Linked DNA regions of Homo sapiens: regions 1, 2, 4, 5 and 6 are each reported to be linked to region 3. Evidence: microRNA targets listed by miRTarBase, many of them from high-throughput screens and not tested one by one. Region 3 holds a microRNA gene; each other region holds the end of a gene's coding sequence.

Region 1 (5,000 bases), not on the chromosome of region 3:
TGTGTTGTGAAGATCAAGTGAGGAATGGATGCAAAGGCCTGAAGTGTGAAACAGTAGAAAAATGGTCTGGTTAGTCTTCATTCTCTTATAGAACTTTACACTTCCCCAAACGCTGTCTTCTCCATGGCTGTACTTGCCTAATAGCAACTGGGGAGGTAGGCTTTAGCAATGTTACACTTGACCAATAGGAAAATGAGGCTCAGAGAGGTGGAGTGACTCGCCCACAGTCACACAGCTTTAGTGGCTGGGCTGGGCGAAAGCACATCGTCTTTCTTGACTAACAGCTCTGTGACCACCTTATGCCTCAGAATGGAGAGGCCAAGTGGCTGTGTGGCTGTGCTGGGGAAATATCTGTCTCCTTTAATCCATGTAATGAAGAAAAAGAAAACTAGCTATTATGACTGTGGTTCATTGAGACCCATGGCTTCTGGGGTGACTACATCATGCCAGCTGTGAGGGGTACTTGGGCATCTGAGGTGATGGTGGGGATGAAGCCTGGCTGCCTTCAGAATCCCATGCCATCCTGTGGTCTTTGCCTTCCAGGGTTCAGGAAGACTGACTGAGGCCACTTCCAGGTGGGCAGCAGAGGCAGGCCCCAGTGTGACCACCACTGCGACCCCTGAGCCCACAAGGGCAGAGCAGCATTCTGAGAGACGCACAGGAGACCAAGCCAGACCAATAAACAGAACACTTTTCCTTCCATGTGGTCTGAATGTTGGCACCAGCCCGGGCAGGGGCATCTCATTTGGGCAGTACTGCTGTGCAACCCAGCTGCAAGGATGGAAGGCAGAGGGTGGGTGTGGGGCCTGAGGCTTCACAGTACCTGGACCAGCAGGAAGATTCTGGGAGGTCACTGCTCTCAGAGGACAGCAAGGGACCCTGAGCTCTGCAAGCTGTGATCTGTCTGGGTTCATGGTTTTTCTCAAATCCCAGGCTATCTGCATGCGCTCTCAGGTGCTACCGAGCCATCCTGGGAGAGATGGATGGTCCACTGCTTTGAGGCAGGGAGCCATCGGGCTGGGGCCCCTTGGTGAACCTGATGCAGGTAAGATGCTGAGGACTAAAACCATTTTTTTTGCACCCAAAAAAAAAGGCAGGAAAATGATCATCAGAAACTAAATGGCAGCCAGGCATGGGGGCTCACAACTGTAATCCTCGCACTTTGGGAGGCTCAGGCTAAGGGTCGCTTGAAGCTGAGAGTTCAAGACCAACCTGGGCAACATAGTGAGACCCCCATCTCTACAATTTTTTTTTAATGACCAAATGTGGCGGTACATACCTGTACATACCTGCGGTTCCAGCTACTCAAGAGGCTGAGGCAGGAGGACTGCTTGAGCCCAGGAGTTCAGGGCTGCAGTGAGGTACGATCAAGCCACTGCACTCCAGCCTGGGCGACAGAGCAAGATCGTTTCTCTAAAATTAAAAAAAAAAAAAAAAGACAAATAAAAATTGCATGTATTTGTAGTGTACAACATGTTTTGAAATATGTGGAATGGCTAAATCAAGCTAATTAACATATGTATCCCTCACATACCCTTTTTTTATGATGAGAACAGTAAAAACCTACTGTCAGCAATTTGCAAAGTATACAATACATTGTTATTAACTATGGTCACCATGCTATGTGATTGATATCCTGAACTTGAACTGAGTTCTTGATGGTCACAGACATGCTGTTCTCAAAACTCAGAAGGGTAACTTCTGAGGTTTTGATTTCAAGTACTTGTATGTAACCTAATTTAACGGGAGCCCAGAGTGCACAGATCAGATATTTATTAAACATATAAATAAAACACAGTTTTCACGATAGAAGTATGAACTTACTGACTTGGGAACAATGTGGTTAGCCTCATTTTATAGGAATGATGGGTCCCTGTGGCCAGCTCTGCCACTGCCTGGCTGTGATTTTATTTTCTTTCTTTCTTTCTTTCTTTCTTTTTCTTGAGACAGAGTTTTGCTCTTTTGCCCAGCCTGGAGTGAAGTGGTGTGATCTCAGCTCACTGCAACCTCCACCCACCATATTCAAGTGATTCTCCTGCCTCAGCCTCCTGAGTAGCTAGGATTATAGGCACCTGCCACCACACCTGGCTAATTTTTGTATTTTTGGTAGAGATGGGTTTTCACCATATTGGCCAGGCTGGTCTCAAACTCCTGACCTCAGGTGATCCACCTGCCTCGACCTCCCAAAGTGCTAGGATTACAGGCGTGAGCCACCAATGCTGGCCCTGGCTGTGATTTTGGTCAAGTCCTCCCCTCTCCCAGCCTTAATGTTCTCATCTGTACAATGGGGAGCATAACAGTGCCCACCTCACGGTATTATGTTGAGAACTGCATGAGATAATTACATAAAGTCTTATGCACAGACTCTGGCACATAGGTGATGCTCAATCAATGGGCGTTATTACATTAGACAGGAGCACAAATCAGATCCCCTTAGGGTCAGGCATACAGAGTCAGCAAGATGTAGAAAAGTGGGGGCTGGGTGCAGTGGCTCACACCTATAATCCCAATACTTTGGGAGGCCAAGGTGGGTGGATTGCTTGAGATCAGGAGTGTAGTAGCGTGTACCTGTGGACCTAGCTACTTGGGAGGCTGGAGTGGGAGAATCGCTGGAGCCCAGGAAGTCAAGGCTGCAGTGAGCCATGATCATACCACTGCACCCCAGCCTGGGTGACAGAGCGAGACCCGGTATCAAAAAAATAAAAATAAAAATGAAAAAAGTAGGGAGCAGGAAGAGGGGAACAGAAGAGCATATACCTGACCAAAGGGGGCAGCTGCTGTCTAGCAATTCCAGGTGAGAACACCAGCTAAGTGGGATCTGTCAGCCAAGCGAACGAAAACCACACCAGGTGCTTTAACAGAAAGAATTTAATAGAGGGACATGTTAACCAGGTGCAGGACTACTAGAAACGCAGAAAGGGACCATAGTATCACAAAGTGTAACTGAGGGAACTGCCTAGGGCTAGAGAGAAAAAGGAAAGAGGTTGTAGCTATTAGAAGTGAGAGGCCGGGGCCAGGTGTGGTGGCTCACACATGTAATCCCAGCACTTTGAGAGGCCGAGATGGGCGGATCACAAGGTCAGGAGATCAAGACCATCCTGGCTAACATGATGAAACCCCATCTCTACTAAAAATACAAAAAATTAGCCCGGCGTGGTGGCGGGTGCCTGTAGTCCCAGCTACTTGGGAAGCTGAGGCAGGAGAATGTCATGAACCCGGGAGGCAGAGCTTGCAGTGAGCTGAGATCGCACCACTGCACTCCAGCCTGGGAGACAAAGCAAGACTCTGTCTCAAAAAAAAAAAAGAAGTGAGAGGCTGGGTGCGGTGGCTCAGTCTATAATCCCAACACTTTGGGAGGCCAAGGTGGGCAGATCACCTGAGGTCAGGAGTTCGAGACCAGCCTGGCCAACATGGTGAAACCCTATCTCTACTAAAAATGCAAAAATTAGCCAGGCTTGGTGGCGGGCACCTGTAATCCCAGCTACTTGGGAGGCTGATGCAGGAGAATCACTTGAACCTGGGAGGTAGAGGCTGCAGTGAGCCGAGATCATGCCACTACACTCCAGCCTGGGCAACAGAGCAAGACTCCGTCTCAGTAAATAAATAAATAAATAAATAGCCGAGCGCAGTGGCTCATGCCTGTAATCCCAGCAGCACTTTGGGAGGCCGAGGCGGGTGGATCACGAGGTCAGGAGATGGAGACCATCCCGGCTAACACGGTGAAACCCTGTCTCTACTAAAAATACAAAAAATTAGCCGGGCGTGGTGGCGGGCACCTGTGGTCCCAGCTACTCGGGAGGCTGAGGCAGGAGAATGGCATGAACCTGGGAGGCAGAGCTTGCAGTGAGCCGAGATAGCGCCACTACACTCCAGCCTGGGCGACAGAGCAAGACTCTGTCTCAATAAATAAATAAATAAATAAATAAATAAATAAATAAATAAATAAAGTGTGAGAAGATTGAGAGAGGGTCCTCCAGAGCTGGGACCCAGACCTCTGGGGAAAGGGCACTGCTTAGCTGGGGAGGTGTCTCTGAGGGGCCTGAGGAGGCTGGTTCTGCAAGTGCAAGACCATTGGGGTCAGACCTCCAGTTTCTTAGCAGAAGCCCCAAATCTAGAGTTTGGCAACTATTTTTTTTTTTTTTTAAATTTCCACTTCTGCTATGGAAAAGAGTATAGTGATTCCTCAAAGAACTAAAAATAGAATTACCATATGATCCAGCAGTTCTACTTCTGCACATATGCCCAAAGGGGACTTGAAGGGATCTCTGTACACACATTTTCAAAGCAGCATTATTTCCAGTAGCCAGAAAGGGGAAGCACAAGCGTCCATCAATGGGCGAATGAATAAACAAAGCATGGTATATTATCAGTTTTTAAAAAAGGAAATTATTTGAGACTTCACAAAAAAATAAAAACCAAAGGGGGAAAATATGGAAATTCTAGCCAGGCATACTGGCTCATGCCAGTAATGTCAGCACTTTGGGAGGCTGAGGTAGGAGGATCACTTGACCCCAGGAGTTCAAGACCAGGCTGGGCAACACGGCAAAACCCCATCTCTGCAAAACATAAAAACATTAGCCAAGCGTGGTGGCACATGCCTGTGGTCCCAGCTACTTAGGTGACTAAGGTGGGAGGATCACTTGAGCCCAGGAAGTGGAGGCTGCAGTGAACCATGATCATGCCACTGCACTCCAGCCTGGGTGGCTGAGTAAGACTCTGTCTCTAAGAAAAAAATAAAAATAAAAAAAAAGAAATTGTGACACATGCTACCACACAGATAAACCTTGAGAACATTATGTTAAAAGGACAAATACAGTTATGATTCCATATATATGAGGTACCTAGAGTAATCAGATTCATAGAGACAGAAAGTGGAATGGTGGGTGCCAGAGGCTGCGGGACGGGGAATGAGAGTTAGTGTTTAATGGGGACAGAGTGTCAGTTTGGGAAGATGAAAACAGCCCTAGATATGGATGGTTGTGATAATTGCACAACACTGT
Region 2 (5,088 bases), not on the chromosome of region 3:
AGCAGCGACAGCAGCGGGGGGCGCAGGTTTCTAGCCAGTCCCCACTTTCGGACCTCTGGGGGTCTGCCCTTGCTTCTCGGGGAGTCTTGGCCCTTGACTGATCCCCGCAACTTAAGGCCAATCCCATCCCTAGCTGGCCGGCACCTGTTCCAAACAACCTGTTGCGCTGACATCGCTTTGGAGAGGCGCCGGCGCTTTGCTGGTGGAGGCGGGTTGTGTGGAGGCCCCAAGCCTTCAGGAAATAGTTTAGGGTTCCGTTGTGGTGAGAGGCACCCCCTCCCCGCTTCCTGTGGCATGTGGGGTGTTTCACCTCTGCCTGTGTCCCAGGAACCCAAGGCGTCCTGGGCACCTCTGCACCTCGCCCACTCTAGGGACTTCTCATGTAGAGCTCGGCAGTTTGGGTGGATTAGACAAAGATGAGGATTAGAGACACACCGCCGGCTAATTAAATGGGCTCTTCTCCTCTCCTCGTCCCCTCCCCGCAACCCGCAGCCAGATAGGACTCTTCGGTTCCCTACCCCCACTCCTAGGCCCTATGTAAGTGCGGATGGAGAAAGCTAGTTACATTAGCCCTTCTGTCTTAGAGGTACCGGCACCTCGGGGCATTCTCGCTCTTAAAGATGCGTTTTCTGAATTATTTCTAGTTTTACAATTTCTCTTCGGTGACTGCACAGGATCCCTTCTAGCTCTTTTCCTGTTGGAGTCGCTGGACGTCTCCCAAACAGCTAGTTAGTCGCCTATCTCTGGAGCGCAGGCCTTCGGAATTGGATTCAGGGTATGAGTCTAGCTAGGGGATGTTTCTAGAAGTTTTATAAAATCCATTTGGGCAAGCGTTGGCATTCGGATTTTAAAAATATAGACGTGCACTGGCATTGGGCAACTCAAAAAAAAATGTGTCTCCTGGCGCTTGTCAGTGACATGCTAATTACAAATTTTAAAACAAGCCACTTCTAAGCGAAGGACGCCTGGCTGCAACCCCACAACTCACACCGGTGCATATAATAAAATATTAGGGTTCAACAGTTGGCATATGTGGCAATAGCAAATGTGACACCTCGAAGCGATTATCTGGAAGTTTTTCCGTACTTTTGAAAATACACTTGCCGCCTCATTTCTCTGATGGCCGCTCAATAGACACTGGGAGATGGTAGCTGGGCCACCCCTCCCAAGAGTTCTTCTTGCGTGCAGCGCTTTCATCCAGGGCTTGAATTGTGTTGTCAAAGTTTAGCAGACAAGAGGAGGGGGCATGAGAACGGGAGGGTGTCTTGAAAAGTCTTGGAAATCGGTGTATTTTGCAGGTGTAGAAGTGCCTAATAACCATGGCTAGTGCGCGCTCCCCAATGGCGAGGGTATGACAGGGACAGCTGGCTCAGTTTTCAGTGTGAAAACACCCCCTCGGTGGACCAAACACAACGACACTGACCTTTCTTCGGGGGGAACCAGGGATGTGCCTTTGACTGAATTAGCCATAAAGACGTCTTGCTATGACTTTTGTTCCCCACGAAAGCAAAGAAATATTGCGTTTAATATGAGAAGTACTGTTCACAGCTTTTCCGTGCCCCTTAAGAAATATTACAGTGCTGATTTACTGGCCTTCTTCTACCGAGTTGGCCCCAAGGGCGGCTGGGGGTGGTGGGGTGGGGACGGGGCAGTGAGGACAGAGGAGGAGGCGGAGTCAGAGAGCTAAAGTGCCTGTTGCCTGTTTCCAAAGTTCTCTCTTTGCAACAGCAAATTTATCAATCTTTTCATCTGACAATACTTTGAAATATATCATTGTCATCTAGAGTTGTTTGATAGATTATCTGCAGGCACACAGCCTTTTTCAAGGTCAAGTTGAAGATTCTTGTTTGCTGTTTAACTGGGTTGTTTCAAAACTCAGAACAATGCCTGCCTGTTAAATTTTCACTTGTTCTCATGGGGCATTCGAAAGCAAGTTTTCCTATTGACCAGGTCTCTGGACATTTCATCCTCTTGAGCTAAATTCAGCAAACAAGGCTTAGGAATGAAATCAACAGAAGAAGAAATGAGATTTAACTTAGCATTTGCAAATGCCAGAGAGATTAAGTCGTCTTTCATATCTGCTCAAAGTGTGTACTAATTTTTGTCTGCATGTTGCAGGCTGGTTATGGCCAAACACATCTCAACTTTGACTTTATTCCAGTGGGAAGCAGTGAACACACTCCCCTAAACCAGAAAGGCAAAGAAATTGTGGCCACTCTTGTTTTTGCCAGTGCATAACCTGTTGTTCTAAAGGCATTTTAAAATAAAGTCAGCTACTTCTAAGTCACTATGTTTTATAGACATATTTATTTCTATTTTTTAGTGGAAAGACTGGCTTCACAGTTTTCTCTATATCTGCGATGATTGATTTTTTTTATTCAACTAACTTTTATTTACCTTGCAATAATGTTCTGGACCAATGTGATAAATTACAGATATGCAAATTTCTTTCAATGGTGTTGTAAGTGTGTCTAGCTGGAGCTGAATAACTCCTTGCAAGTCAGTCTGTGCGTGCTCAGGACCCCAGGGAGCTGATCAAAGCACCCATTCTCTTTCATCCCCGGTATTCTCCTCCAAACTATTTCGATACAATATGTTTCCATGATGCACTTAATGTGCTAGGGACATAGAACTCATTACAACCTAGCTAGTTCTGCGGACCTCTTTGTTCCGCGGCAGAAAGTCAAAGAAAAAAGGAAAAGCGCTGCCAGTTGCCAGCTTTCTGAAATGCTAAAGCATGCGTCATTTTTCACCAGGTCTCGTCTTGATATCCTCAAAAGACAAACTATGAAACCGGCCTCAGCCCTTTCTGGCATTAATTACACTGCTGTCCAGCCGATCTGTTTTTCCTATTATATGCATTTCTCAGCAGGGATTTTTTTTTTTTTTTTGTAAGACTAATGCAGCTGCAAGTTAAACTATGAATGCATTTTCATCACTATGGGAAAAAAATAAGTAAAAAAGTAAAAAGGCTGCAAAACATACAGCAAAACTTTTGAAGGACTTCTGATGGACAACAGATATAGGGCAGGACCTGGGTGGTTTGCAATTTCTCCCAACCTGAAATTGGCTGAGAGCCTCAGAAATTTCCAATACATCCAGGGTTCTGTGGAGACCTTTATTGTGCCATTTGAAACTTTGCTTTGGTACCCAGATAAATCTTGAAGGTTCAAGTTTCTATTAAAGTTCTGAAATGAAGCAGTTTGATATCACACCCAACCAGGAGGCTGCTTCCAAGGAATTTCTGTCCAGGACGATGGCACAGAGAATACAAATTTTATTTCATTTCCTCTGTTTCTTGTAGGGTTGATTGGTTGGTGGAAATGGCTGGCAGCCAGTTCTGGGAAAGATTCCAGACCTGACTCCGATTAACCCTCTCTGGTGAAACTCTGCTGGAAACCAACTCACCAGCAATTGCCATTAATCTACTTACTAATTAAGCCAATTCATTTCTAAAGGAGAAAAATTCCTTTCTTTAGCCAAACTGATGGGAGGAAATTTGAAAGAAGCGCCAAACTGTGTAACTGTAATTCAGCCAAGGACTGCTAAAACAAGGTGTTGATATATAGCAGCAGATTTAAAACAAGTTTCTAGGGCAACACTCCTTTGGAGACAGCGGCATATAGTGCATAGTAGATGAAGCTCGAATAACGCTCCACAGCGCTATACCATCCCATGTACTTGCGTTGAAAAGAACACGTCTCTCTCCAATTAAATCTTGTTCCTTTTACGCACAAATAAATCACCTCTGCAGCTTTCTTTTGAACTAAAGTATATCAGCTTTATGTGACAACTACCACAAATATATTTCCTGAGACTTAATAAATAACTGTAGAATTCTGTAATCCAGAGCCTACGATTCAGATACAGGCTCTTAACAAGGCCTTACTTGTAGTTAGGGGAATAGAAAGAACCAAGTTGGACATTACGCATGGAAGAAAAGCAAACCCGCCTTTTGGTAAACGGTGTCTGGCATTCCAGCAGAATCTTGGTTTGCATCCTTACCAGGAAGCAAAACTCCAAAGAGTTTCCCTACTTACTAAAGAATTTCTGACAGCCTTTAAGATGCGGCTAGGTGCCCTGTGCCGGGGTAAGATAAGAATGAATCTTGCTTGAGGAAATGTACGATCTCCCTGTAGTCTTCATGACCTACCTTCATGGGGACTAGTTATTGGGTGAGGAGACAGCAAAACAGGTTGATGCTTTTGGTATAGAAAGACTGGATTAGAGAGGGAGTCAAACTTTTTAATTAAAGTCCGTCCCTTCCCACTCTTAGACGCCTGGGCTCTTCTGAGTCCCCGGAGCTCCTGAATGGATGTGGTTGCCCCGGAGGTTCAGTGCGCCCCGCTCACCCAGCACCAGCCAGGGCTTTCCTTAAAGGCGTGGAAAGGAGCGCGCACAAGGCGCGCATTGAGGTCTATTCGAGCGCAGTGCTGGTTAATATACATAATCTGGAGAGATTAAACAATTAGTTTAGAAAATCCTTGGAGATAGTATCCTTTCCGAGGGAGGCACCTTACACCAGGACGGCGAGGCCACTCTTTCTGAGGCCCCGTCTGCGCAGCCCAGGCTTCTGCTGGGTTAATCAACAGTCTCTGCGGGGCTGCTCTGGCGCATGGAGGGCTCCTCCAAGGACTCTTCTTTTGGGGATTCCGACAACTTCCCTAAACGTGAAGAAAGGTGGACAGACATAAACTTTGTTTTACTTATCATACACAGACCACTTCCCACTCTTCCCCCAAAGCATTTTGCGTCATTTTTTTTAGTGGGTCTTCCCAGCCCTGGCCCTAGCTGAGAGCCTCTTCAGGAACCTGGAAGAGAGACGGTGAAGGAGGTAGGGCAGGCAGGCAGATTATCCTTGGCCTTCCAGACAGCGTGTGCCAGCCAAGCTTTGCTCTGAGACAGTCTGGGGCTCTCCGGCAGCCCCAGGCTGCAGGAATGGTCTCAGGTGCCCCTGATAAAGGCCAGTACTCAACATTCTACTTGAAGCCGTTGTAGCAGAATAAAAAAAGTGGGAAGAGTTGTCTGTGTTTGGGCCCAGGGATTTGATTTTTCCAAGTTTTAAATTTCCATTTGCCTTGCAATGGA
Region 3 (5,088 bases):
TTCTTGGGAAAATACCCCTAGAAGAGAAGAGAAGAAAATCAATATTGGGTAGAAGAACAAGAAGGATTATGATACAATCTCAAAGACTTTCTATCTCATTATAACCTTCTAAAGTTCTGCTGCTTACAGGTTTTCTTTGAAACGAATTGCATTGTTGATATCAAGAGTATTATGCACGTTCCAGCATCAATTTCTTGGTGCATTAGCTCCCCATTGAATGACACATTGGATGAACACCACTGAGATGAATATCTCTGTCAAGGTTTCTGGAAATTTTGTTGTTCCTCTGCAGGAATACCTTTTATTCTTGTAAATTCAGTGGTTATACTTTAAAAGTTTTCCGATAAAATATTGTTTTTTTAAAAAAAAATTATCATTGAGATATTCTTTAGTCTGATTTTCCAGTATGATTTTTTCTTTAAAGTGCTTCATTAAAAAGCAGTTCTTTGGCCAGGCACGGTGGCTCACGCCTGTAATCCCAGCACTTTGGGAGGCCAAGGCGGGTGGATCACCTGAGGTCAGCAGTTCAAGACCAGCCTGGCCAACATGGTGAAACACCGTCTCTACCAAAAACACAAAAATTAGCTGGGCCTAGTGGCGGGTGACTGTAATCCCAGCTACTCAGGAGGCTGAGGTAGGAGGAGAATCACTTGAACCCAGGAGGCGGAGGTTGCAGTGAGCCAAGATTGCGCCATTGCACTCCAGCTGGGCGACAAGAGCAAAACTCTGTCTCAAAAAAAAAAAAAAGCAGTTCTTCAAGAATGTAACTATTGAAATAGAATCCAAAAAATGCCATAAGCTGAGACATGATAGAAATACCTATACTTTCACCCAAATGCATGGCCAATACTAAGTTGTTTCTTCATATCTTCCGTAATATTTACTATGTGACTTCCCAAAAAATTGCTGACAAAAGAGTGAATTTTAGTTTTTGGCCTTTTGTTTTATAATTATTTCAACATTTTTTGTTGTGGCAGGGAGAACCAGAGACCCCAATGGTTTGTGGCTTTTGTTTCTTAACCGTAAAACAAAAAACCTCAAAAGAAGTTTCTGAGCAATTATTAGTAGGTTTTGTGAAATTTCTCAAAAAGCTGCTGAAATTTTTCTTCCATTTTGAATGTTTGGCTTTCAAATATCTTGTTAATCATAATAACTTTATATTATTACTAGTTAACATCTTAAGACATAACATGCCAGCCAACTAGGAAGAATTTTATCATTAATGGCAGTGGATATAAATTCATAATTTAAATGGTCTTCTTGATAACTTTGGATTTGAAGGGACTACCTGCTGGTCTAATTATCCTACCATTCTTTTCTTTTAACCTCATATTGTGGCTGATGTAGAATTTATATTTAGAACAGAAGGGTTTGCTCTGCCATTTTCTTTAGGTTTATTCTGCTGTTGTCTTTCTTTCACCTATTTTTTTACAGAAATATTTTTAAAGCCAATTTTTCCAATATGAGGGTTAACTTAGTTAAAATTAGATAATATTATCTAAAAATCCCTTTGCTGGGCACATGTTAATGGAAATGTCCAGTCTCACAGGAAGCAATCAATTGAGCCAGCACTGTTATCCCTTCCACACTTTTTTTGAGACAGAATCTCACTTTGACACCCAGGCTGGAGTGCAGTGTCACGACAATAGCGCACTGCAGCCTTGACCTCCTGCGTTCTGGTGATCCTCCCACCTCAGCCTCCCGAGCAGCTAGGCCTACAGGTACACGCCACCATGACCGGCTGATTTATTTTTATTTTTATTTTTAGTACAGGCAAGTTCTCGCTATGTTCCCCAGGCTAGTCTTGAACTCCTGGGCTCAAGCGATCTGTCCATCTTGGCCTCCCAAAGTCCCGAGATTTCAGGAATAAGTCACTGTGCCTGGCCCCTTCCATACTTTTTTCTCCACAGGATATCTTGAAATCACTGGGACTTGGGCACTGTCATTATAGCAGTTAGCATACCCTGACTGAGAGAACATCAAGAACAAGCTTGAAAAGTTTGGGGTCCTGTTCAGCCACATCTCCCCATTCTGCACTTCTACAAGTGGCTTTTTGAACCTCAGTACAAAATTTTACCTTTGCTCCTATTAATTTCTCTTCTGTTGTTGGTCCCTTTCTTTAGCCTTATGTTAAGATGTTTTGAGATTCTGATTCTGACTTCCAGTATGGTTGCTGTCTCTTCCAAGTTGACATACACTCTCCATCTTTATTCAAGATATTAATGTAACTATTAAGAAGGATATCTCTTTAAGACAAAAAAAAAGTGCAATACAAAAAAACAACTTCCTTTTGCTGAGTTGCTGAGCCCCTTGTGAGGCTGACAATGGCAGGATGGTTTAGTCTGTCGTCTCCAGAGGGTTTCCTGCCAGGGGACTTCTGGATTTCAGGATCGGCCAACATGAGTCAAACAGCTCTTGGAGCTCTTTATTCTCAAACCTTCTCTGCAAATCAGAGCTGGAGATTTCAGGATTCCCTCCCCACATTCCTCATGACCAGTACCGCTCCCTATTTTCTCAATTTTTCATGAGTCCCTTCAAAGAGAAATAATTTAAATAAAAAGTCTTTCCCAGATTTACCTTTTGCTGATTTTCCATTTTTCCCAACTAGGCAACAAGACTTCATTTTGTTCACTGATGTGTCACACAGAGTATTTCAAATAGTTTGAAGCCAGAAGAAGCAAAAAGGGAAGATGCTAAGAGGTCACCAGGGCCGGGCGTGGTGGCTCATGCCTGTAATCCCAGCACTTTGGGAGGCCGAGGCGGGCGGATCACTTGAGGTCAGGAGTTCAAGACCAGCCTGGCCAACATGGTGAAACCCTGTCTCTACTAAAAATACAAAAATTAGCCGGGTGTGGTGGTGGGCGCCTGCAATCCCAGCTACTCAGGAGGCTGAGGCAGGAGAATCGCTTGAACCTAGGAGGCAGAGGTTGCAGTGAGCCGAGATCACACCACTGCACTCCAGCCTGAGCGACAGAGTGAGACTCCATCTCAAAAAAAAAGAAAAAAGAAAAGGCAACCAGGTTTCTGTTTTGGGGGGCTACATTGAAGAAATCCAGTGTTTCCTACCTGCTTTCCATGGTGGCGGCGGGGGGGAAATCTGAATGAAAAAAGAGATTAGATCCATCCTTGAGCATGGTGGGTTTGAGGTGCCTGGAAACATCTACACAGAGATGCTGAAAGTCCATGAAACTGACTAGTCTGAAGCTGAGAAGGCGGACTGGCTTAGTGCTCTGCAATGTGCAGATAGAATATCTATGGATACTGAGTCAGGGCTCTCACAGTGTTGGTCTCAAGGCAATCCTGGTCCTTAGAATAGACATGGAAAAAGGCACAAGGCAGAAAAGGCCCTCTTTCTTTCCATGTCTATCTCCCTCTATGATCATAGACAACATGCGTTAAAAATCATATTATAAGCTGCTCTTAGAACTTGATCGCTTCAGCTCACAAGTTCAAGGCAAGTCTCGGCAACATAGCAAGACCCCATCTGTACGAAACATTTTAAAAATTAGCCAAGCATGGTGGCATGTGACTGTCATCCCAGTTACCCGGGAGGCTGAGGTGGAAGGATCACCTAAGCCCAGGAGGGTGAGGCTGGAGTGAGCGGAGATCGTACCACTGCACTCCAACCTGGTGACAAAGGGAGACCTTGTCTCAAAAAAACAAAACGACTCCCACCTCCAATAAAAAACCCTCATCAACCCCAAATCTAGACAAGTAATGTCCACTTTTGCCTGAGATTTTTTTTTTTTTTTTTTTTTGAGGCAGAATCTCGCTTTGTCGCCCAGGCTTGAGTGCGGTGGCACGATCTCGGCTCACTGCAACCTCCACCTCCCAGGTTCAAGTGATTCTCCTGCCTCAGCCTCCCGAGTAGCTGGGACTACAGGCGCATGCCACCATGCCTGGCTAATTTTTTGTATTTTTAGTAGAGACAGAGTTTTACCATGTTAGCCAGGATGGTCTCAACCTCCTGACCTCACGATCTGCCCACCTTGGCCTCCCAAAGTGCTGGGATTACAGGCGTGAGCCACCGCGCCTGGCCTTGCCTGAGGTTTTTAAATCAGCTTTACCCATCCTACTGACTGGGGGAGGGTAGCGGGTAGGTGGATGGGTTGATAATTTCCACCTCCATAGCAATCACCCTAAGCCTTCTATCTTGTTCCAGTCCTACTCTTATTTTGCTTATGTCTCTGCCCACCTTCAACCTCCTAACTTTGTGGTCACTCTTTCAAATTCTGTCTGTGGTCTTTGCATTTGGTATTTGAACTTGATCTCCCTGCTATTTGAACCTTCAGTTACCCCCAACCTCAGTTACCATCATAGATTTTTCTTTGGAAGAAATACCTTTTATTAGTCAGGATCCATTCAGCAGACAGAAGCCACACCAGGTAAAGGAAAAGGAAAATTTTAATATGAAGAATTGCAACTAGGTAAAAAGCCATTAGCTAGGTAACTGAGAAGGGAAAAAAGATCTCTAAAGTATCACAGAGGTAAGTGGCAACTGCAGTCATCAGCTACCACCCTTTCAACTGAGGGAAAAGAGGGAAGAGATTGGAATTATTAAACTTGGAAACGTAGAGTAGGAGTCTTGGAGACTCAAATTTTCTGAGGAGTTGGTACTGGCTGGCTGGGGTTAATGTCTCTGAGTGGGTACAAAGGAGCGTGTTTTATAAATGGGACAAAATTGAAAAGCAGATTCAGCTGCTGCTGTGAGAAGGCCGTGCCTCTGCCCATTTGAAGAAGCTTTGCTCAGGTGACATCACAGGAATAAGAAGTAGACAGGAGGCAGCAAATTCTCTCTTCTTCCTCCAGCCTTGCAGGCTCCCTCTACCACCCCCTAAAGAGCCTGAAAGGTATCTGGCTGGAAAAATAGAAATGTCGTTTGCAGTTTCTGTCCCAGCAACCCAAAGCGAGGTATAGAAGTGTATTTGAATTTGAAAGATAATAATGCTGTAAGGTCACTGTTTCTGACCTTAGCCAGCTCCCACTCCTCCCCAGCTAATTACTTCCCACTCCTGCCTCCAGTAGAGAATGACATATTTACCATTCATTTCCCACTGTGTTCTCCAAGTCTCTGCCCTTGCCCTGGCA
Region 4 (5,088 bases), not on the chromosome of region 3:
CTTTGCAAAGATGCAACTTTAGTTACAGGAGGAACATATTTAATCTAAATACACATTGTCACAGATAAGACTCAGAGGATAATATATATAAAGCTAACTATACTCATCTGTGTTAAATAGCTATACAAAGCTACTAACTTAAAATACGAAAGGGTTGTTTATGAGACATTTCAAACTATAAGTTTGGAATTCTTGTTCCTTTGTGATACCATTATTCTACTAAATACATATAGTGGTTAGAAGTCCAGTGTACCTCTTACAGAACAGCACATAGGATTAGATATGCCAAGATTAAAATGTTGCACATTTTAGGAAACTCAGAAATAATTCAAAGACGCCTTTATGCTAAACTCAGCAAATTTGGTTCCAAAATTTCCTTTATTATGAAAAAGTAAGTATAATGTTTAGACATTAATGTACAGAAAATAATTGTCATATATATTCCTTTATAATTTTCACACCTGTTTATTTTAAAGTGTTAATTCTACACATTAAAAAACATACTAATGAGATCCTGTTTGAATAGGAAATTGCTAAATTTTACTTGCAACTTTTTGTAGCTATAATTCTAATACACATTGGGATCTAAAACTATTAGTAAACAGCAACAATAGAGACTACGTATTTTTTAAATTGGGCAAATGAAAGAAGAATATATTGAGATGTAAATCAGGAAGTAGTTATTTGCGTTACAAATATGCAGATTAATTAATAACATACACCCTTTAAATACTAAAGCATTTAAAATAAGTTTAACAAAAAAGGCAATTTACACTTTTTAAAACCCCATCAGTTGTATAAAGAGAGGCACTACTTTTATCCACGAAAAGCATCAAAATTTTTTAACAGTTCAAAAATAGGGGCCCAAAACAACTGATTTATCAGAAACAAAACAATACAATGGCTATTCACAGTGTAAGAAATTAAATCTATTTTTTAAAGCATGTTTTTCAGTCTCAATTTATAACACACTTTGACTTCCATTTCTGCTTTTCCTTAAATCAATCTGGACTGTGTGGAAGAATGCCGTAACATGAAGCTATTAGCAATCTGGGTTAATGTTCTACAAAAAAAATATGCTGCCTATATACACAGAAAGTAAATGAAGAAAAAAGTTAGCACTGAAGTACAATGCATACTCCTTAGGTTCTTAAACTCTACCAGTCTAACAGAAAGCACCAAGATACAGATGCCAAAGTCAGAAAAAATACAAAGCAGCTCAGAATCAATATCATATATCTTATTCAAGGTAAATTTTATGTTAGATTCTTTGTCTGGCATTTGGGAGGCTAAATTAACTTAGGAGGCTAGAGATCCCATCTCTACTTTTTTTTTCTTTTTGAGATGGAGTCTTGCTCTGTTGCCCAGGCTGGAGTGCAGCGGCATGATCTCGGCTCACCGCAAGCTCCGCCTCGCCGCTTGACGCCATTCTCCTGCTTCAGCCTCGGAGTAGCTGGGACTACAGGCGCCCGCCACCCTGCCCGGCTAATTTTTTGTATTTTCAGTAGAGACGGGGTTTCACCGTGTTAGCCAAGATGGTCTCGATCTCCTGACCTCGTGATCTGCCTGCCTCAGCCTCCCAAAGTGCTGGGATTACAGGAGTGAGCCACTGCGCCTGGCCTCCATCTCTACTTTTAACAAAGACTTGCGCCGGGCGCAGTGGCTCACGTCTGTAATCCCAGCACTTTGGGAGGCTGGGGTGAGTGGATCATCTGAGGTCAGGAGTTCGAGACCAGCCTGGCCAACATGGCGAAACCCCGTTTCTACTAAAAATACAAAAATTAGCCGTGCTTGGTGGCAGGTGCCTGTAATCCCAGCTACTCCGGAGGCTGAGGCAGGAGAATCACTTGAACCTGGGAGGCGGAGGTTGCAGCGAGCGGAGGTTGCAGTGAGCCAAGATCGCGCCATTGCACTCCAGCCTGGGAGACAAGAGTGAAACTCCATCTCAAAAAAATAAAAAATAATAATAATAATAAATTCAAGGCACTTGTATCAGTGGGTTTGCAGTATCAAGGGCAAAGAACATTTTTTATTTCTTTGAGAAATTCCTTCCACCCAAAACCCATAAATTCTTCTCCTCTCATAGTAGATCTTTATTGTCAAACCTAACAACTGTAAGTTACCTAAGTGGAATTACTTGTAGAATTGTGAATCATTTGTTCACTCTACAAATAAGTGAAGAAATAAACTAAATGCTTTCCACTTAAAGTTGTCTAGTACTATTAACTGCAGTTAAAACAGAAGCAAATAAACTTATCTGTCATATTCAATATTGTCATTTCCATAATGAAGCTTTCTTTTCCTTTTCAACTGATGCTGGATGAAAAATTCATTATTTAAAACATCCCATTAACAATTTTTCCAGATCAATTTTATTTAAAAAATAAGTTGACAGAAAGAAGCAAAAGCAACTTACTAATATGTCAAACAAAACACAAGTACCAAACCTAATTCAGCACAGGTAACATAATATAAATCAACAAAAATTCGATTAAATATTTCACACTAGATAAAAAGTAGGGTGTTCTATTTCCCCTACAAAATATGGAAGCTGACTTTTCAATTACATTGTTTTACATGCTCTAATCACAAGTACTACCATGTGACTATTCACTGTGTGCTTAGGTAACTATGGTTATATTTTCAGAAGGCTTGAAGCAAAATACTAGTGACTCACTATTCAGATGTACAGAGTCAACCTGAGGTACACTGCCTGCAACTATCTTAATATAGTTAAGAAATTACGTATAAAAGTGAAATGAGAACCACTGAAACTAATCTATCAGATATATGACATCACCATCAAACAATTCTTCAGCTCCAAAAGAGCAAAGCATCTGAGAGTTAGTCTAAGAATGCATGTACTTTAACAACACATGTATAACAGAAAATAAAGACAACGGAAAAGCTCCCTTCTAATGTAGTGTACTTTTACAACACATATATAACAGAAAATAAAGACAATGGAGAAATGCTCTCTTCTAATGTAGTAATTTAGAGTACTGAAAATGCAATTTTTGCAGCACTTTAACAAGTGAGAATTATGAAAATCTGTTCACTGAACAGGAATATAAGGAAAAACTAAACATGTATCCCAACTTATTAAAATGACACATCTATAGGCTACATCTATCCTGAATCTCTCTATAAGGCCAAATTAACTTTTCACAATTTTCTCTTAATAAATGATTAAAAATATGAAAATACTTAAAGGAACATAGCATTTAGACTGTGAAACTGTGTTGTAAATTTTATTATAGTTGTCATTTTTTCTTGATGTTGAAGACTGCATCACAGTTTCATAAATAACATTGCTTGTGTTTTATAATATATCTGTATGCAGAGGTACGTTTAACAACATCTGCATGTATCCCCAGAAATTGTTGCTAATTTTAGAACACATATTTTTATTCTGATAATGATTTAATTTTTTTACTTAGTACTTCAGTAGAAAACATGTGAATAGATTGTATGCCCCATATCAGTATTTAAAAAAAAAACCTGAACAACATTCTTTTAAATGTCCATTTAACAAAATATATGTTAACGGTTATTGTTTTATCATGATTAAATTGGTATCAAATTAATAGGCATAAGTGAAAAAACTAATCACTTACTAGTCATTTAGAAAATGCAGTAACATCATGCATTATGTATTACTAAGAAAGTTCTCACTTAACATAAGCAGTAGATGAGGAGAACAGTATCATGAAAATTCTAAATATATCTTTATGTATATCCTTAAAAATCACTTTCCTTTATATAATTTCCATTTTAATTTAAATGCCACATATCTTCAGCTAACATTTAAATTAGTTTTTATTGTAAAACTTCAGTTGTTATACATCATAAAATACCTTCAGAAACTTGCTTGAAGGTCGGAATTATTCTTTCTATTAAATAATTATATCACATTATTTATTAAATGTTATGTTTGAGAAATGTATCTGACCTTGCACATATTCAAATTCAAGATCAATATTATAATAGAATGAAGATTTTATGGGGAAAATATTGCAATCAGTAAAAGTGTTAAAGACCATGTAACGGTAAGGAAGACACCTGTCTGGAATATTGCAGAGTGGTAGATATCACATTTAATCAAAGGACAGTAATGCTTGATCTTCTATTTCCCACAGAACTCTGGATCCAGTTAACAGCAGAAGGGGGAAAGAAGCAGCAATATTTCAAATGTCCATACTCTGATCTGCAAAAGACACCGAGTAGGTAGAAGAAAACTGCATTTTACTTCAGGTAGTCTTTGAAATGAAGGCTCTGTTATTTTTCAAGACTGGAAGGATATCACAGTGTTGATTTTATATACAAAGTAGGATCTGTTCCAGTATACTCTAGTGAAATAATTCACATATGGAGAATAGTTAATTTTGACCTCATGACAAAATCGCCCATATTTTGAGTAGGTTAGCTTGTCACCTTCTTCACAAACCATCTATTAAAAGATATAAAACATAATATTAAAAAGCTTATTAAGCTTATAGCAGAAATGCAATCAATATACAAATGAGTATATTTATATGAAAAAACACATTATTGCTAAACATTGTCTATAAAACATCTCACTGTTAGCAAATAGAAGCCTTCTTCATAAGTGAGTCACCATGCCCACTATACTCCTGAACTTCTCATTGACACTGAGAAACCAGCACAAAGGTTTCCAATTTTTAAAAGATTTAATCCTAAAATTTAGAAGGCAGTGTTTCCATAATCCATTATCATCGCTCCGAAGACCTTATCATGCACCCTACCAAGGCTGAGAAATGAACATATTATATTCCTAAATATATTCACTCTTCTCGTGTAGAATTATTTAGTAAGCAAGGAAACTTTCGTGACTTAGTGCAGACCTTTACAATTTCACCGAATGATGTTCACTAAGATAGCTTAGTTAGCTTGAAGAAGTTTTTATAAAAAAAATTAAGTAATATTTTAATGGCTATGAAAGATGTCAGATAGCCAACTTTAAAAGGATGGATTAGCTTAAGTCCATGCCAGGCATGACATGAAAGGAGAAGTAAGCTGATCTTCAAAACAGCAGAAAAGTGGGTATCAGAGCAGAATAGAAAGGCT
Region 5 (5,088 bases), not on the chromosome of region 3:
TGCCTCAGCCTCCCAAGTAGCTGGGACCACAGGCGCCCACCACCATGCCCAGGTAATTTTTTTGTATTTTTAGTACAGATGGGTTTTCACCATGTTAGCCAGGATGGTCTCAATCTCCTGATCTCGTGATTTGCCCGCCTCGGCCTCCCAAAGTGCTGGGATTACAGGCGTGAGCCACCGTGTCCAGCCCTGTTTGCTTTTAAATGGGAGAGACCTGTTTAAATCCCTCCGATGGGAAGAGAAAGAACAATTGGGGCTACAGTGGTGGGGAGGGAGGGAGATGAATGATGACTCTGTCACTAACAACCCCTGGGACCGTGGGCAGTGGATTTACTGCCACTTCCTCATCTGTAAAGTGAGAAGTGATAACAGGATCTGACTCACTGTTTCAAGTGTTTATTCTGCCTCCGCTTGCAACCTCTTGCAACCTCCGCTTGAAAAGGGTAATGGATTTACTGCTACTTCCTCATCTGTAAAGTGAGAAGTAATAACAGGATCTGACTCATCAGGCTGATGTGAGGAGGGAACCAGCCAGTGTGAGCACATTGCTCAAGGCATAGAGATAAGCTACAATAAATGTTATTCCCATTATCAACCTCCTCCATGGCTTCTAAAAGGAGCAAGTCTAGGTGTGCAGGACCCCACAGTCTGCAAGGTTTCCCAGCTTGGAAGGTGGCCCTGGTAATCTGGAAGCGTCTGTGACAGCTTAAATAAATTGGATTTTTTAATGTTTTCTTTTTTTAAAAAAATCAGTAGGAATTACAGGAACATACAGTAGGTGTACCCAGAGCTTAGCGGAAGTACCAGAGGCAGGATTTTGATGAGGGTTTGATCTCCTCTGGTTCGTTGGATCTGTGAGTGACTGCTGTATAACTGGCCTGAGGTCAGACCTCGCTGACCCCCCCACTCCCCTCTCCCCTTTTTTTTTGAGATGGAGTCTCGCTCTGTCGCCCAGGCTGGAGTGCAGTGGCACAATCTCTGCTCACCGCAAGCTCTGCTCACTGCAAGCTCCGCCTCCCGGGTTCACGCCATTTTCCTGCCTCAGCCTCCTGAGTAGCTGGGACTACAGGCGTCCACCACCACGCCCGGCTAATTTTTTGTATTTGTAGTAGAGATGGGGTTTCACCGTGTTAGCCAGGATGGTCTCGATCTCCTGAACTCGTGATCCGCCCGCCTCGGCCTCCCAAAGTGCTGGGATTACAGGCTTGAGCCACCACGCCCGGACCCCCCAAGCCCCCCCTTTTTTTTTTCCGAGATGGAGTCTCACTCTGTTGCCCAGGCTGGAGTGCAATGGTGCGATCTCGGCTCTTTGCAACCTCCGCCTCCTGGTTTCAACCGATTCTCCTGCCTTAGCCTCCCGAGTAGCTGGGATTACAAGCATGTGCCACCACACTTGCTAATTTTTGTATTTTTAGTAGACATGGGGTTTCACCATGTTAGCCAAGTTGGTCATGAGCTCCTGACCTCAAGTGAGCCTCCCACCTCGGCCTCCCAAAGTGCTGGGATTACAGGCATGATCCACAGTGCCCAGCCTTGACCCACATTTTTTATGGGGAAAAGAGGGCGGTGGGCCCTTTGCAGCCTGAGTTTTCACTGCACGTTGGAGCGGGAGGGGTCTGTGGTGGGTGGAATTGGGTCCTCCCCAAATGCATGTCTACGTGGAGCCTCAGAATGTGACCTTGGTTGGAAAGAGGGTTTTTGCAGAAGTAATTAAGGAAAGGGTCCAAATGAGATCATACTGCATTCGGGTGGCCCTCACTCCAATGACTGGTGTCTTTTTAAGATGAGAGGGTGCACAGAGGCACATATACAGCGGAGGCGGCCACGTGGAGACAGAGGTGAAGACTGGAGTGGTGCAGCCAGGGAACTGCCAAGGTGCCAGGAGCCACCAGGAGCTGCAAGAGGCAAAAGAAGATTCTTCCCCACAGAGGGAGCAGAGCACCGCAGACAGGTTGATTTCAGGCTTCTGGCCTTTAGGACTGTGAAAGGAGACGGTTCCACTGTTTTAAGTCACCCAGTAGAAGGTCATTCATTATGGCATCCCCAGTACACGAAGAGTCTGGCTTCATGATTGGTCTAGGTTGGTGAAGGAGGACACGGGGTCCTCTGAGGCCATTGTGGTGGCACTGAGTAGCCCAAGGGACCCTTTTCAGCATCAGAATGGTGGGAAGTGGTGTGCAGACCAAAGCCGCGAACACGCAGAGTGGGAGGACTGGGGTCTAGCAGCCTGCTGGGAGGGCCTGTCCAACCAAAGACCTTTTGATCTACAAATTTTTTTTTTTTTTTCGAGACGAAGTCTCGCTGTGTCACCCAGGCTGGAGTGCAGTGGCGCAATCTCAGCTCAGTGTAACCTCTGCTTCCCATGTTCAAGAGATTCTCCTGCCTCAGCTTCTTGAGTAGCTGGGATTACAGGCACAAGTCACCACACCCAGCTAATTTTTGTATTTTTTGGTAGAGATGGGGTTTCTCTGTATTGGCCAGGCTGGTCGCGAACTCCTGGCCTCAAGTGATCAGCCTGCCTCTGCCTCCCGACGTGCTGGGATTACAGATGCGAGCCACCGCACCCAGCCAATTTACAAATATTTTGAAAATGCTACTTATGAATGGCCCAATAATTTTACTTCTAGGAGTTTATCTTAAGGAAAAAATAAAAAATTCAGATGAAACCTTATCCCCCTAGATGTTTATCAAGACACTATTTTTTTTTTCCAGGGGGTGCGATCTTGCTCTGTTGCCCAGGCTGGAATACAGTGGTGTGATCATGGCTCACTGCAGCTGGAACCTCCCAGGCTCCAGCAATCCTCCCACCTCCCAAGTAGCTGGGATCACAGGCCCGCGCCACCGCATATGCCCAGCTATTTGTATTTTTAGTAGAGACAGGGTTTTGCCATGTTGCCCAGGCTGGTCTCGAACTCCTGGACTCAAGCAATCCTCCCGCCTCAGCGCCTGGCCCAAGACACTTTTTTTGTTTTTTTTTGAGATGGAGTCTTGCTCTGTCACCCAGGCTGGAGTGCAATGGCACGATCTCGGCTCACCGCAACGTCTGCCTCCTGGGTTCAAGTGATTCTCCTGCCTTAGCCTCCCAAGTAGCTGGGATTACAGGCACCCATTACCATGCCTGGCTAATCCAAGACACTATTTATAAGAAAACCTAGAACCAGTCTACACATCCAATAGTGAGGAAATGATTAGATGAATTACAGTACATCCACAAGATGGATTACTAAACAGACATTGGCATGATTTATGAAGAGTGTTTAATGTTTACAAAGAGCTTTTAATGATGTGGAAGATGGTGGTATAATAAGTAGGAAAAAACTGGTTATAAATGATACCACAATATGATGTCAACGATGAAAAAATGCACAAAAAAAGACTTTTTTAAAACGTCGAAACATCAGAGTGGTCTCTAGTTGGAGGAATAATTTTTTTTTTTTTTAAGACAAACTTCTTCATACTTTTTGTACTTTTAAAATGATTTACTATGTACATGGATTACTTCCATAATCAAGAAAAAAAGTAAAAACTTTTAAAATGCTGTGAACGTGGTTTCCATTTTTATTTTCTCTGATGGGTGACTGCACATCAGCATCTTGAGTTATGCTAACTACTTAGGCTGGTCACGACACACACACACATACAGAGAAGTCACACAGGCTGTACCGGGCTGGCTGTTGCAAATGTACATGAATTACACGGGTTGAAGTTGTTTGGCAGCTAGTTAACATATGCCACCCAATGACGGGACACAATCTGGTCACACGCTGCCTCTCCTGCCTGTTGCTGTTCTTTACAAAGGTCCGTGTGTCGGGCTGGCAAAGTGGCATCCTGCTGGCATCTCTGTGGTGGCCCCGGAATGGTGGAGTGCCCAGGTCAGCATCTACTCTGGGTCCCATTCTCAACTGCTCTGGCCTTGACATCAGAGCTTCCGGTTCCCTGCTGGCTCTTCTGCACACTGGATCCATGCCAGTCCAGGCCCCCTCCAGGCACACACCTGAGGCAGACTGAGAGCACAATGGACGCTGTCCTGATGTGAACTGTGCCCAGACACAGGATGGGGGGAAGCGGGAGATGTGACCACGACACCACACACAAGCTCGATCTTTACAGATGGGCCCTCTGGGACTGCTATATGGGTGGTGCCCGAGAGACACGGGGGCCATGTGGAGCCCTCCAGGGCACAGTTGCTGGGAGAGGACAGACGGGAGGGGACCTGTGCCCATGTGCCTAGCTCTGAGAGCAGAGCTAGGAGGGTGGATGGGGAACGTGTCCGACATGGTGCTAGATTGTTGAGAAGTCACGACTACACACAGCTGGGGAGCATGCCCCTCTCCCAGTTCATTCACACGGTGGGTTAGATACAGCTAGAGAGAAGTGGAGATATGCTTTTTTGAGGGAGGACCTTTCCTGGTGTTTGGATAAACAGTGAGACAGACTCCTGGGTTCGGCATGCTCTGGGGAGGACCATGCGACGGTGAGAGACTCCCTACTGCTACACTCTGTACAGGGTGGCCAGGCCCGCCTGCCGTGCCCATGGCCTCTGGTGACAGTCACGGGCTTGCCTTCAACCCCTTCTGCCTTGGAGAGCTCTTGGGCCCCGGTGAAATGGGGGCTATAAAGACAAGAGGGTGGGGGGGGGTCCCCATGGCCCAGGGCACCCCACGTGGGGGCTACATGATGTTGCACTGGGTGGCCCCGCAACAATCCTTGATCAGTGCCAGCCCCGTCTTGGCCACCGTGGGCTTGCTAGGTGGGGGCTCTGCTTTCTTCTCTGCCCGGGAGCCTGCAGCAAGATGTGGGCACAGGGAGAGGGGGAGAAAGGAACAGAGAGAGAGAGGTGAGGTGAGCAGAGCCCTGACCATCTGCAGCCCAGCCCCACTGCAACCCCTGGCCAGGTCTTGTTCCAGGCCTTGTTCAGGTGGTATGGAGAGCTGATGCACATTTCATATGATCCTCAGCTGGTCCTCATTTTATAGTCCTCATTTTATATGGTCCTCAATGCTCAGCTTCCAACCCTAACTTTCAGCCCTTCTCCTAGTCAGCTGTTATCATCATTGTACCTGCCAAGCCTAGCACAGGGCCTGACAT
Region 6 (5,088 bases), not on the chromosome of region 3:
AGCACTGAGGAGGGCACTGGTCCCTCTGGCCCCACCCAGCCTTCACCCCAAGGTGAAGTACGCTTTCTCAGGTCCCCAAGGATGGGTGGCCAGGTCCCCCACTGGGAGTGGAGGTCTCACTCCCTTCCTTGGGTTCTGACCTCCACATTATCTGGCTGTGAGGGTGACCTGCCTGGCTTTCCCCACCAAGTGCAGCTCCCCGCAGCTGAAAGCCACACTCTCAACACAGGACTCCTGAGATCTGACACTGGCCAATTCACACCCTGCTTGAAGCTGGCATTTGAGAGGCCTTCAGGTTGACAACAGCAGCAACAAGTTTGCTGTTCAAAGTAGGCCAAGTCACGGCTTTGAGCGGCATCATTTGAAAAGTGCTGGGATCAGCCAGGCGCAGTGGCTCACTCCTGTATCCCAGCACTTTGGGAAGCCAACGCAGGTGGAGCACTTGAGGTCAGGAGTTCAAGAACAGCCTGGCCAACATGGAGAAACCCCGTCTCTACTAAAAATACGAAAATTAGTCGGGTGTGGTGGCAGGCCTCTGTAATCCCAGCTACTCGGGAGGCTGAGGCAGGAGAATTGCTTGAACCCGGGAGGCGGAGGTTGCAGTGAGCTGAGATCATGCCACTACACTCCAGCCTGGGCAACGGAGTAAGACTGTCTCAAAAAAAGAAAAAGGAAAAAAAAAAGTGGTGGGGTTTGGGTGCAGTGTCTCACATCTGTAATCCCAGCACTTTGGGAGGCTAAGGCAAGATCTCATGAGGCCAACCTGGGCAACATAACAGCATGACCTCATCTCTATAAAAAATTTAATTTGGCTGGGCGCGGTGGCTCACGCCTGTAATCCCAGCACTTTGGGAGGCCGAGGCGGGCGGATCACAAGGTCAGGAGATCGAGACCATCCTGGCTAACACAGTGAAACCCCGTCTCTACTAAAAGTGCAAAAAAATTAGCCAGGCGTGGTGGCAGGCGCCTGTAGTCCCAGCTACTCTGGAGGCTGAGGCGGGAGAATGGCCTGAACCCAGGAGGTGGAGGTCGCAGTGAGCTGAGATCGCGCCACTGCACTCCAGCCTGGGTGACAGAGCAAGACTCCATCTCAAAAAAAAAAAAGAAAAAAAAATTTAATTAGCCAGGCATGGTGACAGGTACCTGAAGTCCTAGTTACTCAGAAGGCTGAGGCAGGAGGATCGCTTAAGCCCGGGAGTTTAAGGATACAGTGAGTTATGATTGCACCACTTCGCTCCAGGCTGGGTGATTCTCTAAAAAAAAGAAAAAAGAAAAAGATGGGAGGATGGGAGGCGGGGCTAGGGGACTGGGAAGGTCCCTCAACCCTTTCTACATGCCTTACCCAGGGTATCTCCCATCATGGCTGGTTACTGTGCTAAAATTATAATTTTTTTTCTTTGAGACAGAGTATCACTCGGTCACCCAGGCTGGAGTGCAGTGGTGCGATCTCAGCTCACTACAACCTCCGCCTCCTGGCGGGCTCAAGTGACTTATCTTCCCACCTCAGCCTCCCATGTAGCTGGGACTATAGATGGGCGCCGCCATGCCCAGTTACTTTTTGTATTTTTTACCTAGGCTGGTAGTGTGCTAACATTCTACCACTTGGGCAACAGTCTTCGGGGCTACATACTGCCTTTTTTTTTTTTTTTGAAACAGAATACCACTCTGTCGCCCAGGCTGGAGCGCAGTGGCACAATCTCGGCTCACTGCAACCTCCGCATCCTGGGTTCATGGAATTCTCGTGCCTCAGCCTCCTGAATAGCTGGGATTACAGACGTCTGCCACTACACCTGGCTAATTTTCTTATTTTTGTAGAGACGGGGTTTCACCCTGTTGGCCAGGCTGGTCTTGAACTCCAGACCTCAGGCGATCTGCCCACCTTGGCCTCCCAAAGTGCTGGGATTACAGGCGTGAGCCACTGCGCTCGGCCCATGTTGCCTTTTTGAGATACTTTTTTCAAAGCTACCCTGGAACGGTAATACAATAAAACTAGTACCTGTGCATAAATTGTTAACTGACCTGCCCAGCATGGGTACCTAACTGGGGTTTAGGGTAGGGGGACAGAGGGCTTTTTAAGATTGGTGGTGGGGGATGGGGATTAATACAGACAGCTCGGGTAGGGTCCACTCCTGGTTCCAGGGTGCAGGTTGCTGGACTTGGAGCATGGGATGAAGAGATGTTCAGAGATAGAGATCATTAGGTTGCTGAACTCCCCTAGGGCAGTGGAGTGAAAAAGCTGTAGCAGCCAAGGCAGGGTGTAGATCCCTGGAGGCTGACGGCTTGGGGTGGGGCCACAGTGAGCCCAGCCCCTGATGGCTCTAGTTCTTGTCCCTTGCAGAGCTCAGAAATGGAGGTGGCTCCTGTGCCTTGTCCAGCAATGGTTCCCTGAAAAGAACCCATAAGGATACCCCCAATCCACCCCAATGTGTTTCTGGTGTTATTGTAGATAATCTCCCCAACAGTGGGTGAGCTTGGGGTGAGGGAACCTGGCTGCTGGGAGTGGAAACGCCCTATATCCTCCATCCTGTACAGCTGCCCAGTGGACATACCTCTCTCCCCAGCAATTTCTCAAGGCACAAGATAAAGTAAGGGGCAAATACAAAGATAAAGCTGTGAGGCAGGAGGGTCTGAGTCTGCCTCTAAAGGAGTAGCCAAGACTCCTGTTTCTCTGCATTTTTCTTTTTCTTGAGACAGGGTCTCGCTCTCTCACCCAGGTTGGAGTGCAGTGGCACGATCCTAGCTCACTGCAGCTTCAAGCTTCTGGGCTCAAGTGATCCTCCCACCTCAGCCTCCCAAGTAGCTAAGACGACAGGTGCACCACCACGCCTGGCTAATTTTTTAAACTTTTTTGTAGAGATGGGGTCCCTGTTGCCCAGCATGCCTGGACCCTCAACACTTAATAGTGATAATAACATATATCCAACCCTTGGTAAATGCCAGGACTCATCCTAAGACCTACATCGATAAACTCCTTTAATCTTCACAACACTGGGAAATATATATATATACTTATCCTCCTTTTACAGGTGAGAAAACTAAGGGACAGACAGATAAATCCCTTGCCCAAGGTCACAGAGCTGGTGAGAGGCAGGTTGGGACGCAGGCCTAGGCTGCCTGTGCTGCAGAGCTGCACCCTTGACCACTGTGCACTCTGCCTCTCATGCCCTCAGCTCTACCAGGTTGGGCAGGAGAGAGATGGGAGAAGCAGTGGCCACTTGCTCTGGGCCAGGCACTTGGCAAACACCTGTAGGTTCAATCTCAGAAGAACCCAGTGAAGAATGAGCCAGATACTCACTGTCCACGTGGAGAAGCAAGACCAGAAGTCTGACATCTGCCAAAGCCACACAGCCCCGGAAGTGAGGGAGCTGAAATCCAAACCTCTGCCTGAGCTCTGCCCACCAGGTGTCTCCTCCCCAGCCCATGTAGGGAGCTGAAGAGAATGGAGACCAGAGGGGAGGGAAAGAGGAGGCTGGAGAGGAGCTCCACAGGTCTTCCTCAGGCCTGACAGCTGCCCCTGGCTTCCCTGAGGTCCACAGGAACCTCCAGACCTTCCCAGGATTGCCCAGCAGGGGAGGGGGCCCAGTGGGGCAGGAACTCAAGGCAGTTGGGCTCCTGGAGAGCAGCCACCCTGCCGCTCCTGCCTGCCTCAATGCAACGGTCTCAGGCTGGGCTGCCAGGATGGGAGGCAGGTCTTGTGGAGTCGCCCACACACCACATACCTGCCCTGAGGCCTTCAGGGACCAATGCAACAGGAGAGGCATTCCCAAGCACCACATGTTCCAGTGGTCCCTCCTGCTCCACCTGGGCCAACAGGGCTGAGGCCTGGAGGAGGAAGCTCCTCTGGAGGACATGGATGATAACCTGGATTGCCAGTGGGGAAGGTCTGGAGCACTGGGGGCAGCCCAGGACCCAGAAAGCCAAGGACGGGGACCCACACAAGGCACCGTGGGGACAGAGATGCTGCTCTCAGGACTTGGTTCAGCCAAGGCATGTCCTGCTGCCAGGCCTGCAGTCCCTTAACTCCCCTCTGACCCAGCCTCCACAATCCCCAAGAAAGGGACAAGGGGCTTCGGAGAGGGGCCAGGTGTACTGCAGGAACGGAACAGATGGGTGGTGGGAAGAGCCCAGGGCTTCACTAGTGCAGACGCCGCCGGTACAGCACCACCAGGAGTGTGACTACCAGCACCCCTGTCACAGCCACCTGGAGCCACAGAGCCCCAGGTGAGGGCCTGTGGCATGGCACCTCCCTCTCCTGGAACTTCCGGTCGGCTTGTGGCCTGGGGCCGCCATCCGGGTCCGCAGGTGGCCCAGGGTTGCCCTCCAGGAGCTGGATGCTGGGGTTCTCAGCCACGTGGATCCCAAAGGTGCCCTCGGACTTATACTCATTCTCCTCTGGGCCATGGCAGGGCCCCATGCCCAAGGAGGTGCTGGCACTGATGGCAAGATCCTCGAAGCAGCCCGAGAACGGGCTGTCTACCTGGGATGCCAGCACGCCAGGCTTACTCAGCTCCGACCCAAGGCCCCTATTCTCAGAGCTGCTGTCTAGCCAGGCTGAGCTGCCTCCAGTGGCGCCGGCGGGTGTTGGAGCTGCTGGGGTCTCCTGGGAAAGAAAGGAGAGCACTGGAAGGGACTGGGGTTGGCAGGGAGACGAACCTGGTAGGGCGGTCCCATTCCCAGGCCAGGGCATGAACTAACACTCCAACCCCTCAATTCCCAATCTATAATGCCCCTAGGCCACCTTTTCTTGGAGCAGTGGGGGTAGAGGGGACCAAGAATCTGCACCAATGGTGGCCTCCTCCAGGGCAGCCTTTCCCTACTCCCTGGCCTGCCTGTGAGCTCATGCCCACCTGGAAGCCTTTGGTAGGGCGGGGCTCCATCCTGCACTGACATCCTGCCTGGGCCTGAGAACTAGAGAGCAGCCACAGGGTCAGAGGCCTGGCCATGTGCCCAAAGGGCCCTATGGACTTGGCTCTTCCCAGCAGACAGCCGCAGCTAGGGTTAGATGTGAGGCTTGGAGCAGGCAACAATGGGGGGCTGCTGGGTCCGAGTGGCTGCTCCAGGTGGGACTGCGTTCTGTAAAGCCTGGCC

Evidence for each region. Region 3 holds the annotated microRNA hsa-miR-4430 (AGGCUGGAGUGAGCGGAG, at 3,589-3,606, shown strand). A microRNA usually pairs through its seed, bases 2 to 8, with sites in the 3' UTR of a target mRNA and lowers its output. Matches are read on the target gene's strand: a 7mer-m8 pairs with bases 2 to 8, a 7mer-A1 pairs with bases 2 to 7 and ends in A, and an 8mer does both.
Region 1: the mRNA of TMEM40 is a reported target of hsa-miR-4430. Seed matches in the 3' UTR shown: 7mer-m8 at 1,382-1,388.
Region 2: the mRNA of C10orf67 is a reported target of hsa-miR-4430. Seed matches in the 3' UTR shown: 7mer-A1 at 3,325-3,331.
Region 4: miRTarBase lists DPY19L4 as a target of hsa-miR-4430. Seed matches in the 3' UTR shown: 7mer-m8 at 1,368-1,374.
Region 5: the mRNA of BMERB1 is a reported target of hsa-miR-4430. The part of its 3' UTR that is shown has no 7-base or 8-base seed match.
Region 6: the mRNA of MAVS is a reported target of hsa-miR-4430. Seed matches in the 3' UTR shown: 7mer-m8 at 3,468-3,474, 7mer-m8 at 1,676-1,682, 7mer-m8 at 1,426-1,432, 7mer-A1 at 1,361-1,367 and 7mer-A1 at 810-816.

What each region holds. Positions count from the first base shown.
Region 1 is chr3:12,730,337-12,735,336 of GRCh38, reverse strand. TMEM40 (transmembrane protein 40) reads left to right here. Exons shown (of 12, transcript NM_018306.4): 12 at 544-1,809. The coding sequence ends at 563. Among named protein-coding and RNA genes, the nearest start is that of TMEM40, 26 kb to the left of the region's middle.
Region 2 is chr10:23,199,592-23,204,679 of GRCh38, forward strand. C10orf67 (chromosome 10 open reading frame 67) reads right to left here. Exons shown (of 16, transcript NM_001371909.1): 16 at 3,105-4,664. The coding sequence ends at 4,582. Among named protein-coding and RNA genes, the nearest start is that of PTF1A, 9.8 kb to the left of the region's middle.
Region 3 is chr2:33,414,931-33,420,018 of GRCh38, forward strand. MIR4430 (microRNA 4430) reads left to right here and starts at 3,586; the gene lies at 3,586-3,634.
Region 4 is chr8:94,789,108-94,794,195 of GRCh38, reverse strand. It overlaps DPY19L4 (dpy-19 like 4), which reads right to left. Exons shown (of 19, transcript NM_181787.3): 19 at 360-4,450. The coding sequence ends at 4,286. Among named protein-coding and RNA genes, the nearest start is that of INTS8, 32 kb to the left of the region's middle.
Region 5 is chr16:15,586,412-15,591,499 of GRCh38, reverse strand. BMERB1 (bMERB domain containing 1) reads right to left here. Exons shown (of 6, transcript NM_033201.3): 6 at 3,241-4,783. The coding sequence ends at 4,671. MPV17L-BMERB1 (MPV17L-BMERB1 readthrough) reads right to left here. Exons shown (of 6, transcript NM_001414674.1): 6 at 3,241-4,783. The coding sequence ends at 4,671. Among named protein-coding and RNA genes, the nearest start is that of MIR6506, 22 kb to the left of the region's middle. RefSeq lists enhancers at 134-428, 1-974, 3,915-4,416.
Region 6 is chr20:3,865,195-3,870,282 of GRCh38, reverse strand. MAVS (mitochondrial antiviral signaling protein) reads right to left here. Exons shown (of 7, transcript NM_020746.5): 7 at 1-4,600. The coding sequence ends at 4,136. Among named protein-coding and RNA genes, the nearest start is that of MAVS, 21 kb to the right of the region's middle. RefSeq lists an enhancer at 3,770-4,271.